2 separate regions of the Homo sapiens genome follow, and region 1 is linked to region 2. Evidence: fine-mapped expression QTL. A gene starts in region 2. The other region holds a variant in brackets. All regions are shown on one strand. Distances are from middle to middle. Region 1 overlaps IL12RB2 (interleukin 12 receptor subunit beta 2). Region 2 holds the start of IL12RB2 (interleukin 12 receptor subunit beta 2).

Region 1 (4,000 bases), 25 kb before region 2:
CAGCAAACTACGGCCCATGGGCCAAATCTGGCCCTCTGCCTGTTTTAATACATCCTGTAAGAAAATGGTTTTGATAATGGTTGAAAAGAAATCAAAAGAAGAATCCGGCCGGGCGCGGTGGCTCATGCCTGTAATCCCAGAACTTTGGGAGGCTGAGGCAGACAGATCCCAAGGTCAGGAGATCGAGACCATCCTGGCTAACACGGTGAAACCCTGTCTCTACTAAAAATACAAAAAATTAGCCGGGCGTGGTGGCGGGGTGCCTGTAGTCCCAGCTACTCGGGAGGCTGAGGTAGGAGAATGGCGTGAACCCGGGAGGCGGAGCTTGCAGTGAGCCGAGATCGCACCACTGCACTCCAGCATGGGTGACAGAGCCAGACTCCGTCTCAAAACAAACAAAAGAAGAATCCTTTTTAGTGACATGTGAAGATTACATAAAATTCCAATTTCAGCATACATAAATAAAGTTTTGTTGGAACACAGCCATGCCTGTTTGTTTAGGTATTGTCAATGGCAGCTTGCATGTGACAATAGCACATTTAGCAGTTGCGACAGATCGTATGATCCGCAAAGCTGAAAATATTACTATCTGGACCTGTAGAGAAAATGTTTGCCAATCCACCAAGCTTGACTGTTATCAAATGTTTGCTATCCAAAATAATCTCTAGTATTTAATTGTTCACACCTATCTTATCTTGGCAATATTTTTAAATTACAAATGAGTGCATGAATTTCCTAGCTTCTCAATGTGGGAAGAGGTGGCTGCAGCTGGTAACTCTTCATTTTCTCCCCCTTTAGGGATTATTCACCCCTCACCCTTGCTGTCACCATGATGGGGGAAGGTTTCTCCTTTACCACTCTGCCCCTCCAAAGTACGAATGAACATGCAACGATTCCTTTGTTAGCTGTAATAGAGTTGAGCAAGATCACAAACTGCAAATAAGACTTTTTAAAATGGCGGATTAACAGACAGAGACATATTGGTAACATAGCTCTAAGGAATAGCTGATTAATCAGTATTTTGGCATCTCTTCCTGGGTGTTCTAAGTGGTGAGAGATCACCTTCCCTCAATACCTGTGCATGTTCTCAGGCATGTCTGGACACCTTGAGCTCAAATTCAAGAATGTTTTCCCACTACAAGGAAAATGTGGCTGCTCTCTTCCCAGTGTCACTATCAGGCCTGCCTTTGATGGATGCTGATTTCAAGACTGTTCTCTTAAACACAGCAAAGTAGTTTCTTTCCTCCTATCCCTTACTTTTCGGTCATTTAAAAAGTGTTTTTCAGTGATAGGAGCTGAATTTAATGACATAGTAAAGGGCCCTATGGAGTAAAGGAAGCCCTAACCCACTGTTCAAATGATATAAACAACTACACCAATCCACCCGGAGATGTTACATTTCTCTCAATTTTGAGAAGCAAAGGCTGCAAAAAGGCTGACTCTGTTGTAGAGTCATTCACAGTTTTAGAGAGTACCTAAAAAAAAAAAAAAAAAAGCTTACTATTAATTTTTTTTAAATGCCAAGTTACATATGAGTACACATTGAAAGGGTTAAAAGGAAGACGTGTTAAAAAAAATTCACACCTTTTACGTTTACATCAGTTGGTGTTTCATAAAGAAACTGATGACAGAAACAGCGGGTAAGGGGTGAAAACCAAGCAGCCTAGAGTAAGAGAAAAAAGACCTACAACAACCCACAGAAAAATCAAACATAGAAAAGGGAGATTCAGAGACAGAAAGGAAGCCAACAGAGCTTGGTAAAGGTGGTGTATCTCAGAGTATGGGTTTCTCTCTTTATGAATACCTTCAGTGACTGAATAAGCCAGCTTCCTAGGTTCAATTCATAATCATCCATGAGTTCATAACCATAATGAGTTGCTATACTCATTGTTATGATGGTGGTTTATTTTATAGGAAATAAGAAAGTTACTGTGCTGCCTTGAAGGAATTTTAATTCAAAAGACAAACACTTTTTAAAAAAGAAAAGAAAAACCTTTTCACACATCTCTAACTAGGTCATTATCATATGTGAGTAAGAATGACAAGAATTCACAAGCCCAGAGTTTCCCTAGTTTATAGTTTAGCTTAATGTGATATAACTTAAATATTTTTCAGACTACTT[A/G]CTACCTTGAACTTGGATATAAAATATAGCCCATTTTCAGAAGTTTTATCTGTACCACATATATAAACAAAATCTAATTCATGAGATAGTCTTTAAAAAAATTACTTTGACTATATATAATAAAACGATATTATGAGTAAGCTCTGGATTATAAAAGTAACAACCAGAGGGCAAGTGGTTCAACATTAAGAGATTTTATTATAAAATGAGTGGTAATAAATTATCATTTGTTGGATAAATTCACTTTTAGACAATTTTTAAAATATATTCTGTAATCCCAGCACTTTGGGAGGCCGAGGCAGGTGGATCACCTGAGGTCAAGAGTTCGAGACCAGCCTGGCCAACATGGTGAAACCTGTCTCTACTGAAAATAACAAAAATTAGCCGGGCATGGTGGCGCATGCATGTAATCCCTGCTACTTGGGAGGCTGAGGCAGGAGAATCACTGGAACACAGGAGGCAGAGGTTGCACTGAGCTGAGATTGTGCCACTGCACTCCAGCCTGGGTGACAGAGCAAGACTCTGTCTCAAAAAAAAAAAAAAATGCAATTAATACAAGAAGTAAGGAAGAATATAAGATTATTCTATGAATCATATATTAGGTATTATATTCTGCTAAAGGCCCTTCCGTTCCTTGAATGTCATTGATGTATGATTGCTAAGGATCATCAGTTATCAAAAGCCATTAGTAGCTCACAGAAAATAAATGCAACTTAATTATGAGGCTAGTTTACATGCACACATATCCATAAATTTCACAAATAAGAATTTAGATTTTGCACGTTAATGTTACAAAAGCTCCAGATAATGAACAATGGATTATATGCCAAAAAGTTTTTCTCTGAGTCAAATTTATATAAATTATGAAAGACTCTCTACTATATCACTAAATGAGTGCATTTATTTATTTATTTATTTATTTATGAGATGCAGTCTCGATCTGTTGCCCAGGCTGGATTGCAGTGGCACAATCTTGGCTCATTGCAACCTTTGCCTCCTGGGTTCAAGTGATTCTCCTGCCTTAGCCTCCCGAATGGCTGGGATTACAGGCACGCACCACGATGCTTGGCTAATTTCTTGTCTTTTTGGTAGAGATGGGATTTCACCATGCTGGCCAGGCTGGTCTCGAACTCCTGACCTCGTGATCTGCCCACCTCAGCCTCCCAATGTGCTGGGATTACAGGCCTGAGCGACCATGCCGGCCTAAATGAGTGCTTTTAAAAACTAATATTCAGATGGCTATTTCTTGTGTCTCCAAAGATTTAATATTGGCATAAAGTTTACATAGGCATTTTTGCTTCAATAAAATATTTTCTTATACTTCAATAACATTCCCTTCCCAATAATTACTAAAAAAGAAAAATTCATCAGACTGAAAAACACATTTGATATCCTTTTCATAGTTATGGGTGGCCAGGTGGTTCTCATTTGTGCAGTAAATATCAAAGGCTTGAAGTACAGTGTTATAATATTTGGACAAGAGAGGATTGCTGGATGCTAAATTTTATTTTGAAATATGTGTCTCCAGAGCCTACTTTCTTTCAAGCTTTCCATATGGCTTATTGAGCCACATTACTTTTCATAGAATCAAAAATATAAAACATATGAAGCTTTAACAAGAAATGAGATTAATTACTGGTTATAGCTCTGTGAAATAAGTTACTGAGATAGTAAGAGAGATAAGTTATAACCAAGCATTATAACCAACATGACTGATAGCAAACAGGAGTAGAACTTACCCAATGTTAAAAATTTCCTTGCAACACAAACATATTTCCTTGAACAGTTTCAGCACTTAAGTTAATATAAAAATTAACTTGTTAACTAATGCAGTCATGCTTTTTGATTCAGCACCAGTAGTTTAAAGATTCTATTCCA
Region 2 (4,536 bases):
ATAAGTCCACAACTGAGAAATGATGCCCAATACCTACTGTACTTGGCGGATTCTTCTACCTTAAAAATTACATGTGTGCTTTCGAATTTTTTTTCACACTAAAACTCATTCTAATACAGAAAAGATTCCGTTTGTCAAAGTTTGGGAATTTATCAGCCTATGTAATGAACATGACATTCAAGAGGCATGACATATGGAAAAGAGCATATTGCAAACTTTTCTGGAGGCTGTTGTGCCTAACAGATAGTGTAATGTATTGAGGATTTCACATTAAAATAGGGAAGGAAAGTGTTAGCTCTTAGCCACTAAGGTCCTTTTAGTTATGTGTTGGACAGAGAAATAGGGCACTGTACCATTCCTATTAATGGAAAATGAGAATCCAACGTTTGTTTGTTCAAGTGGAGGTGGTTATAAGGTTCTGAGCCAGAGAGGTGGAAACAGAAGGAACACAGTTTTGAGCCAGAAACCTGTAACTCTCTAACTGTGTGAAACATGTAAGTTTCCACATCTGTAAAATGGGAATACTAATAACAATTTCACCATGTTTTTAAGGAATTAGATAATATATATCCAAAAACCAAATACATAGTAGGTGCTCAACAAAGATGTTCATCTACACAGAGCACACACATAGCAGATTATAACAATTATCTAGAGTTTTAAAAATGGGGAAAAAAGGACTAATTTAGCTTTATTCTTTATATATATATGTGTATGTGTGTGTGTGTATATATATATATATGTATATGTATGTATGTATTTATTTTTAAGACAGAGTCTCGCTCTGTTGCCCAGGTTGGAGTGCAGTGGCCCCATCTTGGCTCACTGTAACCTCTGTCTCCCGGGTTCAAGCAATTCTCCTGCCTCAGTCTCCCGAGTAGCTGGGATTACAGGTGTGCGTCATCATGCCCAGCTAATTTTCGTATTTTTAATAGAGACAGGGTTTCACCATGTTGGCCAGGCTGGTCTTGAACTCCTGACCTCAAGTGATCTGCCCACCTTGGCCTCCCAAAATGCTGGGATTACAGGCGTGAGCCACCGTGCCGGGACCCTGTTCTTAGACAAGGTCTATTTGTATGCTTTTAGGTTACTATTTGTAAGACCTGGATCTAATGGTACAGATACATAATCCCGTACAATGCTGACACTGATATTTAGTGTGTCCTAGGGAGATGAGGAGGGCCTCATAGTTCACAAAGGAAGGGGCATTTCACAGAAGAGAAAACTGAGGCTGGCCAATTTGCTTGCACCAGAGCATCTTGCTAGTAACTGGCCAGGCAGGGACTCGGGGTCAGTCCAGAGGCCACAGGAAAGACTGCTGAGACAAGGTTAGTTCACCCTCATCCGGGACTACGGAAGGCCCCCCCCAATATCTTACTCACATTTGATACATTTTCAAGCAACGGGAGCCACGTCTGTGGGCCTGAACCAAGGCTGGACCCTCAGGGGTGCCCTCTGCCCTTTTCCAGTCGCCGTCCCCTCCCTTCCGTTTGAGCCCACCACTCTGTGCCCCGGCCCAGAGAGTACCTTGGAGGCTCAGTCCGCGCGCTCCCTCCCCTCCATCCAGCCAAACCACCACCCAGTACCTCCAAGTGAACATCTGTGCCCAGGGCGTTAGGACTGTGATGAAGAGAAGCCATTTCGGATCGTATTGGAAGACTTTAAAAATATATATATACATATATATATATAAAGAGAGAAGCCGTCGCCGAAGCCCCCTCGGGAGACGCGAGACACGGAATCCCGGGCACGCAGACACCCCGCTGGTCCGGGATCCTGGGGCTCTCTCTGTCCCCGACCCCGAGTCACTGGTCACTCACCACGTGTCGCCTGCCAGCGGGCGCGGTCCCGGGCCTGCGGGGACCGGGTGGCCCCGGTGCTCTGGGCCGCACGTGTCGCGCTCTCCGCGCTCTCTGCCGGCGCTCGGGCGTTCCCGGTGCCAGCGCCCGCCCTCCCGCCTCCGCCTCCCGCCTCTGCGCCACCAACTCCGGGGTGGGCGCGGGGAGCTGGCGGCGAGTGAGGATCGGGCCGGGGCGGGGGTCGGGGCTGGGCGGTGGCCGCAGGGCGGAGAGGACTCGCTTCTCAGTTCAGCTCTGGAAGCGCAGCCGGGCGGGCGCCCGTGGTTTCCACCCCGCGGGTCGAAGCGGGCTCGGGTGGGATTCTGCCACCTGTGGGCTCTGCTGTGTCGCCTTGAGCAAGATAATTCTCTCTCCACCGTCAGTTTCCCCTCATATAAAATGCGGATAATAAAGCCTGTCTCATAAGACGGAGCAAGGGTTGACCGAGGTGAGGTGCGTTTATGCACCAAGATATGATAGGCGCGATAAAATCGTGTGCTCAGCGTTCACAGCCATAGAGACGTGGCACTTTGTTGACAGCCATCAGGGAACTTTCCTCGCAGATGTCCTTTCTCTGTGCTCTGCACCGCCCAGCTCTTACCACACCTGAGCGCCGAGGCCTCCCAAGTGGGCTGTGCACAAGACCGCCCACTGGAGTGCGGGCAGAACATACTGGAACTTCCATTTGTATTTGCTGTCTAAAAAATGAGAAAAAAGTTAAACTTGAACAGATGGCGTGTCACCACTCCCGTATAGGTCCCGTGTTATAAGTGGTGTTCTCAGGCAAGAGGGAAAACTGCCCAGAGTACAGAGGGGTCGGCAGCTCTGCATAATATTCATGACATAATATTTATGACAATATTACTTAGAAAAAAACTGTATTTAAACCTGTAAAGACAGACTCTCACTCTGTTACCCAGGCTGGTCTCAAACTTCTGGCCTCAAGCAATCCTCCCGCCTTGGCTTCCCAAAGTGCAGGGAATACAGGCCTGAGCCTCTGCACCCGTCAGCTTAGATTTCTTTAAATCTAAGACTTCCTTAATTATAAGATATACCATTATTTATGCGCTAGTAAGAAATAAAAAGAACTGCCAGGTAAACAATAACAATGCTTTCTCAACATTTAGAATCTTTTAAACTAAAATTTTATTTAGTTTAGAGATTTTATTTAGATATCTCTAAATAAAATTTAGATTTTAAACATATGTATATTATCTATCGAATTTTTTTTTAAGTCCCCCCCCCTCCCCCACCCCGTTGTCTCTGGAGTTTTCTTCTAGTCCACTGAGCCCAGTACAGGTTTGCTGAGCCCGCAGAAGTGGACAACTGCATACCACGCTTCTGGGCATTACCTTAAAACCGCTCTCAATGTTTGAGATGTTAAATATGAAAAATGTACATCTTGGAATCAACAATGTACAGTAGATTGTCTTTATGGGATTGTGACATACTGTAGTTTACATGCTTTAGTAATTTATCTACATGAATAATTTTACTAAAATCTTTTAAATCGTAGAATCTAGAATCTTAATATTACTTTGTAATGAGATGATACATAATTGTAGAAATCATTTGTAACAAAGATTTTAAAAGTTGTCTTAAAGTGAGTTATTTTCTTTATTTTTACAAAAAAACCCCAAATATCCTAAATTTGCTGATCTTTTCTGTATTGATATATGGCTCTCAGTACATGTTATCTAATAGATCTTTTTGAAGAACAAAAAACCCCAGAGGTTTATTTGTTGTTTCTTCAAGGTAATTTTCACACCAAGTGATACGTTGTTATGAAGAGACGATTTGAAAACAAATATTTCGAAGTGTTCCCATTATTGTGTGTTTTTCTTACTGAAGATTTTATGATTGTCATCACAGAAAATGCTTTTAAAAACTCGGAAACAATTTGCTATTTTGTTTCAATCTTTTAATTGAGCAGTTCAGTGGATTTTAAATCCATTTGTTAAAAAATATAAAAATGCAGCAGCTTCTCATTACTTTAAAAACTGATTGATATCAAGAATAAGATTATGATAGCCAAATGTTATAACAATCTTGCATAATTCATGGATTTTTCAACACTTTTTAGTGAGAAGGAAGGCTTTTAGTTTTGTTAATAAATCAATAATTTCAAAAATGCATTTTACTCTATCTCATTTAAAAATTTAATTTATATATTTGTGTGTGCATATGTGTGTGTGTGTATATACACACATATAAATATACATATGTTTTTCTGTTTTTTTTTTTTTGAAACAGCGTCTCACTCTGTTGCCCCGGCTAGAGTACAGTGGCACAATTTCAGCTCACTGCAACCTCCACCTCCCGGGTTCAAGTGATTCTCCTGCCTCAGCCTCCTGAGTAGCTGGGACTACAGGCACGCGCCACCATGCCCGGCTAATTTTTGTATTTATAGTAGAGATGGGGTTTCACCATATTGGCCAGGCTGGTCTCAAACTCCTGACCTCGTGATCTGCCCACCTCAGCCTCCCAAAGTGCTGGGATTACAGGCGTGAGCCACCGCGCCCGGCATACATATGTTTTTCAAGGAAATAAAAAAACAACCAAACATATGTTGGGGATGTTTCTCAAAAATGCTTTTTTTTTTTTTCTGAAGGAGTATACCATCTAAAATGTTGAAAGACCACTGCTCTATTAACTTCTAATGGCAGCATCTTACAAAATTGCAGAAGTCAGACACAAA

Evidence for each region. PIP is the estimated chance that this variant, and not a neighbour inherited with it, causes the effect.
Region 1: its variant is fine-mapped to the expression of IL12RB2 in whole blood (TOPMed, PIP above 0.99).

What each region holds. Positions count from the first base shown.
Region 1 is chr1:67,330,885-67,334,884 of GRCh38, reverse strand. The region is part of intron 8 of IL12RB2 (interleukin 12 receptor subunit beta 2); the gene reads right to left. Among named protein-coding and RNA genes, the nearest start is that of IL12RB2, 25 kb to the right of the region's middle. The variant A/G (reference allele first, on the strand shown) is at 2,123.
Region 2 is chr1:67,305,252-67,309,787 of GRCh38, reverse strand. IL12RB2 (interleukin 12 receptor subunit beta 2) reads right to left here and starts at 1,915. Exons shown (of 17, transcript NM_001374259.2): 1 at 1,821-1,915. RefSeq lists a silencer at 1,863-2,052 and enhancers at 2,513-2,562, 2,593-2,692.